Homo sapiens: one gene and its partner. The protein of the gene in region 2 purifies or fractionates together with the protein of the main gene of each other region. This does not show direct contact. Each region holds a gene or a part of one and is shown on either strand. Other genes may lie near its edges. The genes, in order: WDHD1 and PLBD2.

Region 1 (4,612 bases), on a different chromosome or scaffold from region 2:
TAATCACATCCAAACGCAAACTCAATCTCCACCCACAGCTCTACCTCTGAAATACGCCCTTCTTCAAGTGTTCCTGTTATTTGCAAGTGGAAGCATCACTTTCTCAACCGTAACATTCAGAAATGTAGACGTTATCCCTGTTGCCTCTTTCTCCATCCTTAATATCTGATCCATCCTGTTGACTTTATCTTTTTAAATATTTCCTGAATGTTTACTCTTTTCTACACACCCATGTTTACTCTAGTCCAAGCTTCTATCACACTTACCCAAACTTGTGGGGAAAAGCAAGAGAGATCAGATTGTTACTGTGTCTGTGTAGAAAGAAGTAGACATAAGAGACTCCATTTTGTTATGTACTAAGAAAAATTCTTCTGCCTTGAGATTCTGTTAATCTATAACCTTACCCCCAACCCCGTGCTCTCTGAAACGTGTGCTGTGTCAACTCAGAGTTAAATGGATTAAGGGCGGTGCAAGATGTGCTTTGTTAAACAGATGCTTGAAGGCAGCATGCTCCTTAAGAGTCATCACCACTCCCTAATCTCAAGTACCCAGGGACACAAAAACTGCGGAAGGCCGCAGGGACCTCTGCCTAGGAAAGCCAGGTATTGTCCAAGGTTTCTCCCCATGTGATAGTCTGAAATATGGCCTCGTGGGAAGGGAAAGACCTGACCGTCCCGTAAAGGGTCTGTGCTGAGGAGGATTAGTAAAAGAGGAAGGAATGCCTCTTGCAGTTGAGACAAGAGGAAGGCATCTGTCTCCTGCCTGTCCCTGGGCAATGGAATGTCTCGGTATAAAACCCGATTGTATGCTCCATCTACTGAGATAGGGAAAAACCGCCTTAGGGCTGGAGGTGGGACCTGCGGGCAGCAATACTGCTTTGTAAAGCATTGAGATGTTTATGTGTATGCATATCTAAAAGCACAGCGCTTAATCCTTTACATTGTCTATGATGCAAAGACCTTTGTTCACGTGTTTGTCTGCTGACCCTCTCCCCACAATTGTCTTGTGACCCTGACACATCCCCCTCTTCGAGAAACACCCACAAATGATGAATAAATACTAAGGGAACTCAGAGGCTGGCGGGATCCTCCATATGCTGAACGCTGGTTCCCCGGGTCCCCTTATTTCTTTCTCTATACTTAGTCTCTGTGTCTTTTTCTTTCCTAAGTCTCTCGTTCCACCTTACGAGAAACACCCACAAGTGTGGAGGGGCAACCCGCCCCTACACAAACTAATACAGGTATCTTCTAACAGTCTTTCTGCATCCATGAGTGCTCCTTTTCCAATTCATCCTCCATGCATTTTCTCAAAAACAAACCTGATCACATCTCTCTGCTTCAAGCCTTTAATACCTTCTCAGTGCTTTTAGGATAAAACGAGATTCCTTAATAAAGTCCAGAAGGTCTTGGATAGGACATCCATTGCCTAACTTCACAGATTCATCTCTCACTAAACTCTGCATCACTCTCCACATTTTAGTAAGGCTAGTTTTCCTTCAGTTCTTTGAGCATACCATGATCCCTGGCCCCATTGGGCCTTTACACACAGTATTGCCTCTGCTTACTATGCCAACATCACCACCCCACCGCCACCACCACTCATCTCTTTATACTGCTTAATGCCTGCTCCGTCTTCAGATGGCGTCTCAAGAAACACTTGTCCAAAGAAGCCTTCCCTGACTCCTTTAACTAGATGAGCTTCTCCTCATACATGTTTATCACTGCACATATTACTTGTTTCTAAATACACATTTATTTTTGTGATTAATTTGTGTTCAATGCCTGTCAATCCAAAAAGACCTTAAGCTCAAAGGAGGAAAAGACTGTGTCTGGTTCGCTCTATTCTATCTGTAGTCCCCAGCAAAAGAGACACACAAGTATTTTTTCAATGAATCAATCAACATAGAAGCGACAGTGGAAGCCGTGCAATCGAGCAGTAGTGCGTAAGAATGGGACTTGGAAAGATAAAAGGGACCAGAATAACCGTAGGAAAATATTATAGTTTAGGAATCAGAGGAAAAAATTGTTTTAAGCCGTCAAAAAGTTAAAAAAAAATAAGCAAAAAGGGAAATAGCATCACTAAAGGCATGGAAGGATATCATTCCAAACAGAACAGGCCACTGAATTTGACAAGTAGGCAGTAACTAGTGATCTGACAAAATTAATAATGTAAGATGCAGGGAAGGGGAAAATATATGGAGAGAAGCTCGCATCTTTCCAACTCCTCTGGAAGTACGATTATAACTTTGTCGATATACTACAACTACCATGACGGCCCGAATCAAACAATAATCTAAAGAAATATGTGTGCCATTTTAGATTTCAACATTATTCCTCTATCCGCATGAGTCATTTTTAGCTGACTGCACATATAAAGTTTAAGGATAAATGTTTTAACATTTGCACCTAAAACGTTGTTTCTCAAAGAACCTTACCTCCCAGAATCATCAAAACAGACCTCCGTGTGTCCCTCTGTATGCCCATATCTCATTGGCTTCCGTGTGGCAGGCATGTTTTCCTTTACCTATCTGAAAATGTTTTATAAAAGCCAGTCTTATTATTTCAAAAGAGAAAAGCAGCGAGGCTAGGGATAGGAAGAGAGCTTAGTCTCCTCTAGGGCCCGTTCTCCGCAGCCCGGTTTCCCCCACCCGAGTGACACCAGCGGGATAAGGCAGAGGGTCTGTCAGACAATAAGCCGGAAAGGGAACACGCATCTCCTTGGTGGACGCGGGCAGCCGGAGTGGGGACTCACCCGGGTGACCGAGCCTCCGCCACTGAGGATCCACAAGAGCTGCTTCCCGCGCTTCGGCTCGCTCACCACACTGCGCCTGCGCCGACCCGCCCACGCCCAGCGCAGGTCCCGACAGAGGTCGCCGGGTGGTGGCGTCAGCTGCGGCGCCCTCCGCGTGGAAATTAGCCGGTTGCCCGGGCAAATCAGGGAGGAAGGGAGGGAGCTGAACACGGAAGTGGTGGCGGCGCCCAGGGAACCGGCGGAGGCGATGACCGTGACGGCTGGGTTGGGACCGGAACGCCGAAGCGGGGTTGGGGGTGGCAGAAAAGCATCTGCTTTGTAAGACCTACACGAGGTGCAGGAGTGGTTGGGCCTCCCCTCTCCACTTAAGCAAGCGCCCAGACTGATGGCGATGGTGATGGCAGCAGTTACTCGCACAACCCCAGTTAAGCTGCGCTCCGGGAGGTGAGTGGGGGAAGGGTGGCCGCTGCCTGGCCTCGCAGGCCGGGGTCTTGTTCCTGCCCTCCAGGCTCTCCTCCCAGGAAACAATATCCGGATCCCTAAAAGGATCCGGTCTCTTTCTTGGGGCCCAGTTAGCAGACAGATCTTTGAGCATCTTCTCTGGAAAAGAAGGCGAGATCTTCTAGAGCCTCTAATCTTGGCATCCTTCGTGCCCTCACCTTGTCGCTTCTGTAGAGATAAAGAAGGAATGACTTAATTTCTGTTCCGGTTGGTTCTCTTGGTACCTGAAGGTATAATTAATTAATGCTCAATTAATGCTTATTCTTTGCGACTCTATATATCCGTTATGAAGAAAGTAACTTGTGTTCTCTATTCAGATCCCACCTAAAGTTTACTGAAGTGAATATTTATAACCAAAAGAAGAGTTATAACTTAGTAGCCTTGAGCACTTACATTTGATCCATGCAATATCTGCTAAAGTCTTGGCCACTAAGTTTAAGTTTATGCTTTTCTTGTATCTTCATTCTCCATATTGGTACAGCAGCCTGTGATGAAAACCTTCAGAATGATATTCTTTCATTTGTACTTATCTTTGAGAATTTTTCTGCGTTTTTGTGATACCTTCCAGTATCAATCACATTTATTTTATTACCTGAGACGTTTTTCTGTTGAAGAGGTTTCCCTATTGTTTTTTTCAATCTAGTTCCATTGTGAAAAGTTGCAAACACACAGGCAAACCGTCGTGTTCTTACCGTGGGTGGCATTGTGTGAGGCGTTGTTTTTAGTACTAGAGCTCCAGATAGCCTTGCTAGACGCTGAGGTTTGTATATGAATGAAGAGGAAGAATGATTGGCTTAAAAACAACTTGGGATTTGTGGAAAAATAACCCACTGTTGATCTCCCGAAAGAGCAGTGGTACCAGAGATGATGCTTTCTGAGTGACCTAATTTTTTTTTTTTGGAGATCATTTGTTTTTTGGATAGACTGGCTTATAAATTTTTTCGTTCAAGTAACAATATCATTGGCTAGAGTACATAGAGTTCAAGATGAACTCTCATAATATTCGTCTCTATGTTGAATAAAGCGTGGTGAGATTTCTGGTTAGTACTATTCAGAGCTCAGCATAAGAAGAATCTGCAAATTGGAACAAGTTATAGCTACAAAATGCCTTCACTATAATATCTGTAATACCCATGAGACTATGATTGATGTCCACACATCTGTCATTTTCTCTTATCAATCAAGCCATTTGATTCATAGGTTAAAGAACAATTTTCTTTGCAGATTTTGCATGTATGGTAAAAGCTTGAGCCTCCGAGTTTAACAGTCCTGGGTTTTAATTCTAACTGACACATTGTGTGACCTTGAATATGTTCCTTTACTGAAAATCGAATTCCTCATCTCTAAAATGGAGATGACA
Region 2 (3,815 bases):
AGAAGAGGCCATCCCATTCCAGCCATCCCACCCCAGCTGACCTGCCAGCAGACTGCTGATGCATCAGTGAGCCTAGCCAAGATCAGCCTGGCCCAGCCCAGAAAACCAAAACCACCTAGCTGACCCATAGAGGCAGGAGCAAAAAATAAATAGCGGTTATTTAAGCTGTTGTTGTTTTAAATTTTGGGGTAACTGGTTAAGCAGCAATAGGTAAAATAAAAAAGGCAATAAACATGTAAAACAAGATGAACTGGCTAGGCGTGGTGGCTCACATAAGTAATCACAGCACTTTGGGAGGCCAAGTCAGGAGGATCACTTGAGCCCAGGAGTTTGAGACAAGCCTGGGCAACATAGTGAGACTCCATCTCTTAAAAATAAAAAAATAAACAAATTAGCTGAGTGTGGTGGTACACATTTGTAGTTCCAGATACTTGGGAGGCTGAGGCAGGAGGATAATCTGAGCCTGGGAAGTCAAGGCTACAGTGAGCCATGACTGTGCCACTGTACTCCAGCCTGGGCAACAGAGCAAGACCCCAACTCAAAAAGAAAAAAACAAAACCAAAATGAACTCTTGGAATATCCCTGCAGTGACTCCGTGTGTTGGGAGGGTTTCCAAGGCCCAAACCTCCTAGGACCACTCCCCACGTGTGTGCCCACCCACCTGCTCATCCCCCAGACACACCCACACCCACCTACCCCAGGGGCCTTCCCGGAACTGGAGCCAGTACTTCTTGATGACACGCAGCATGTGCTGGTAGTTGTTCCAGGTGTTGTGGGCAACCAGGAGGTCACTCTGGCCAGGGAGCAGCTTGATGAGGGCAGAACAGGAGCCAGAGCCCAGAGAAGGTTTGATCTTGGTCTTGTTCAGGGCCAGCTCCAGGTCTTCCAGGTCCCCAGAGAGCTGCAGCAGGCTGAGGAGGGCCAGGGCATCAGAGGGTTACCACGCCTGCTGTGAGTGCTGTTATGTACTCATTTTGCAGAGGAGAAAGCTGAGGCTCTGGGAAGTCAGCTGACTGTTCCAAGGCCACAGAGCCAGGGAGTGGCAAGGTTGATGCTGGAACCCAGGTCTGTCCGACTATGAGTGTGTGGCCCTTCTTCCCACCCTGTTCACTCTGGGGGTGGCACTTACAGGAACCCCAAGGGTTTGATGGTGAACTTCCCAGCTGGGAAGCTCACACGGCCTTCGTAGCTGTCCTCCAGGCCTTTCAGCTGCAGGAGGGTCAGCCGCACCTAGGGGAGGGGGCGGGGGCAGAGGGAGGGTGAGGCCTCTCCTCCAGGCTCACACCTTCTCCTTCAACGGGACGGGCTCTGGCCTGGGGGTTCAGACAGAGCAGGAGGCCCGGGGGTACCCTCCAGACTCCAGCCAGCCTTGACTCCCCCAAACTACCACCCACCCCTCCATGCTGAGCACTCTCCTGCTTTCAATGAATTAACTCTATGTCTCTGCCCTGTGTTAACCCCAAATCAGCCCCACTTAAGAGCCTAGTTCAAAAGCCATCTCTTCTAGGACGCCTCCCAGCCTGGCCTGGCCTCTTGCCAACTGCTCCTGTTCTGAGTTCAGTACTGACTGTATTGCTGCCTCGGGCACCTGTCTCATGCATCTGACTTCTCCCCATTGTCATCATTTTGCCTCAACATCCTATAGCCATAAAGTATCATCAGTGTGTCCCTCATGGGGCCTTGGGCAGGCACACTGGGCACTTAGTAAGCATCTGCAAGATGGATGGGTGGGTTGTTGGATGAATGGATGGGTGGGTGGATGTATGTATGTATGGGTGGGTGAGTGGGTTGACAGGTGGGAGGTGAATGGATGGGTGGATGAGTGGGTGGGTGGGTGGGTGGATGTATGTATGTATGGGTAGATGGATGGATGATGGATGGACGGGTGTGTGAATGGATAGATGAATGGGTGGGTAAATGGATGGATGGATGAGTGAGTGAGCGAATGGATAGATATGTAGATGAGTGAGTGGGTGGGTGGGTGGAAGGATGGGTGGATGGAGGATGGATGGATGGGTGGGTAAATGGGTGGGTAAATGAACGGATGGATGAGTGAGTGAATAGATGGATAGGTAGATGGGTGAGTGGGTGGGTAGGTGGATGAATGGATGGATGGATGCATGGATGGATGGATGGGTGGATGGATGGGTGGTGGATGTGTGGAATGGACAGGTAGATGGGTTGGTGGTAGAAGAGTCTGTCTTAGGGTGTGAGTAGGTGGGTGGGTAAACAGTGAGAAGTTCTACAGAGGAAAATGGTGCAAACCTGGCCTAGGCTAGGCAGACATGCTAACAGGCATTGATGGCCACTTTACAGAGACAGCCTGCCGTGTGTACCTCACAGCAAACACCTGACATTTTCCGGGGAATCCATAAATAACTGACTTTTCCAATGATGGCCTAGCCAGTGGCCCAAAGGCAGAGAGCCTGCCTGGGCCTCTCCGTTAGCTGCCAGCTGATCAGCAGCTCACTCAAGGAAAGGAAAACAAAATTCACTGTGTCCAGACTTTCTGGGATTTTCTGGTTTTCCCCTTCCCCTCTTTCTCATACTGTCTTTACTTGCATCCAATGTAATCAATCTACCAAGCAACCTCCCTTGTATGCAAGCAAAACACCATATGTACACAAGCAAAACACCATGCTAACAACTGACTATTTGTTTTTGGTCATTATTTAACTGTAGGTAGGCTAGGATGGATGGCTGGAGTTCCAGCAAGTGGACAGATGGAGACTGGGCAGATGGATGAGTGGCAGGTCGGCTAGGAGGGATGGAGATGATGATGGAAACAGAGGCGGCTGGGCAGCTGGACATGCCACAAGGCTGGCCAGAACAACAGGAGACAGGATGGCTGGCCAGCTGGAAGCCCCCTCCCACCAAGCGTGGCAGCAGGACTCACCTGGTGCCAGTAAGGTGAGTCTGGGTTTGACTCCATCTCTTCCTGCATCCACTCTAGGTTGGCCTCCAGGAAGCTCTTCAGCCTCTCGCAGTAGCCGACTTCATACTCGAAGGGGCCGCAGTAATTCACCACCGTGTTCATCCAGTGCATGTAGATGAGCTGTGGGGTAGGGGGTGGGCGAGGCAAGGGCGGGCAGCTGGGGTGCTCTCTTCCCTGAGAGCCCCCCACCCAGGCTGCCCCAGAGCGGAGGCTGCTGGTGTGGCCACCTGAGTCCTTGCTCATGCTGTCCTCTCCCTGGAGGCTCCTCTCCCTGCCCAGCTCTGCCCCGGATAGGGACCCCAGGCCCCTGGAAGTTGCCCTGAGAGCCTTTAGCCTGCAAAGCCTATAACTGATGGCACCACCTCTGCTACTGGGGACCCCAATCTATATGTGTGTTCAGTTAGTCAATCCATGAATGTTTTTTTTTTGAGCACCTATTATGTTCCTTTTTAAGCACTGAGGACATAGCAGGGAACAAAACAGCAATAACCCTTCTGATTCCACTGGGCAAGAGAATGCCGTGGCAGTTTCACCCAGACTTCATGCGGCCCTCTGCACTTCCCACCGAGATGCCACCTGCATGAGTCCAGGCTCGCCTGCTGGGGGACAAAAGACCACGTAGCCTGGTCATCCCCGTGAGTGAGTGGCAGCACTCACTGCCTCAGGATTGATGGCTTCATGACTGCTGCTCCATCACCATCTCACTGAAACACATCCAAATCCTGTTCATCCTTCAAGGCCCACTAAGACACCACCTCCTCCATGCAGGCCTCCATGACTTCCACAGCATTTCCCCACTGCCTGTCCTATACCAGGTTCTGGGCTGGGATCAGGGGACACAGCTGGGGACAAGACATATTACCACCCACAAGAAGGCCAC

Evidence for each region.
Region 1: the proteins of PLBD2 (region 2) and WDHD1 fractionate together in Homo sapiens (co-fractionation; one large-scale study listed by BioGRID). This does not show direct contact.

The regions. Positions count from the first base shown.
Region 1 is NC_000014.9:55,024,277-55,028,888, forward strand, and holds the start of WDHD1 (WD repeat and HMG-box DNA-binding protein 1), read right to left. Parts: upstream 2,824-4,612; 5' UTR 2,752-2,823; intron 2,528-2,751; 5' UTR 2,512-2,527; coding exon 2,435-2,511; intron 1-2,434. UniProt on the Homo sapiens protein: Core replisome component that acts as a replication initiation factor. Binds directly to the CMG complex and functions as a hub to recruit additional proteins to the replication fork.
Region 2 is NC_000012.12:113,371,889-113,375,703, reverse strand, and holds part of PLBD2 (putative phospholipase B-like 2 isoform 1 precursor), read right to left. Parts: intron 3,056-3,815; coding exon 2,897-3,055; intron 1,231-2,896; coding exon 1,130-1,230; intron 912-1,129; coding exon 697-911; intron 1-696. UniProt on the Homo sapiens protein: Putative phospholipase.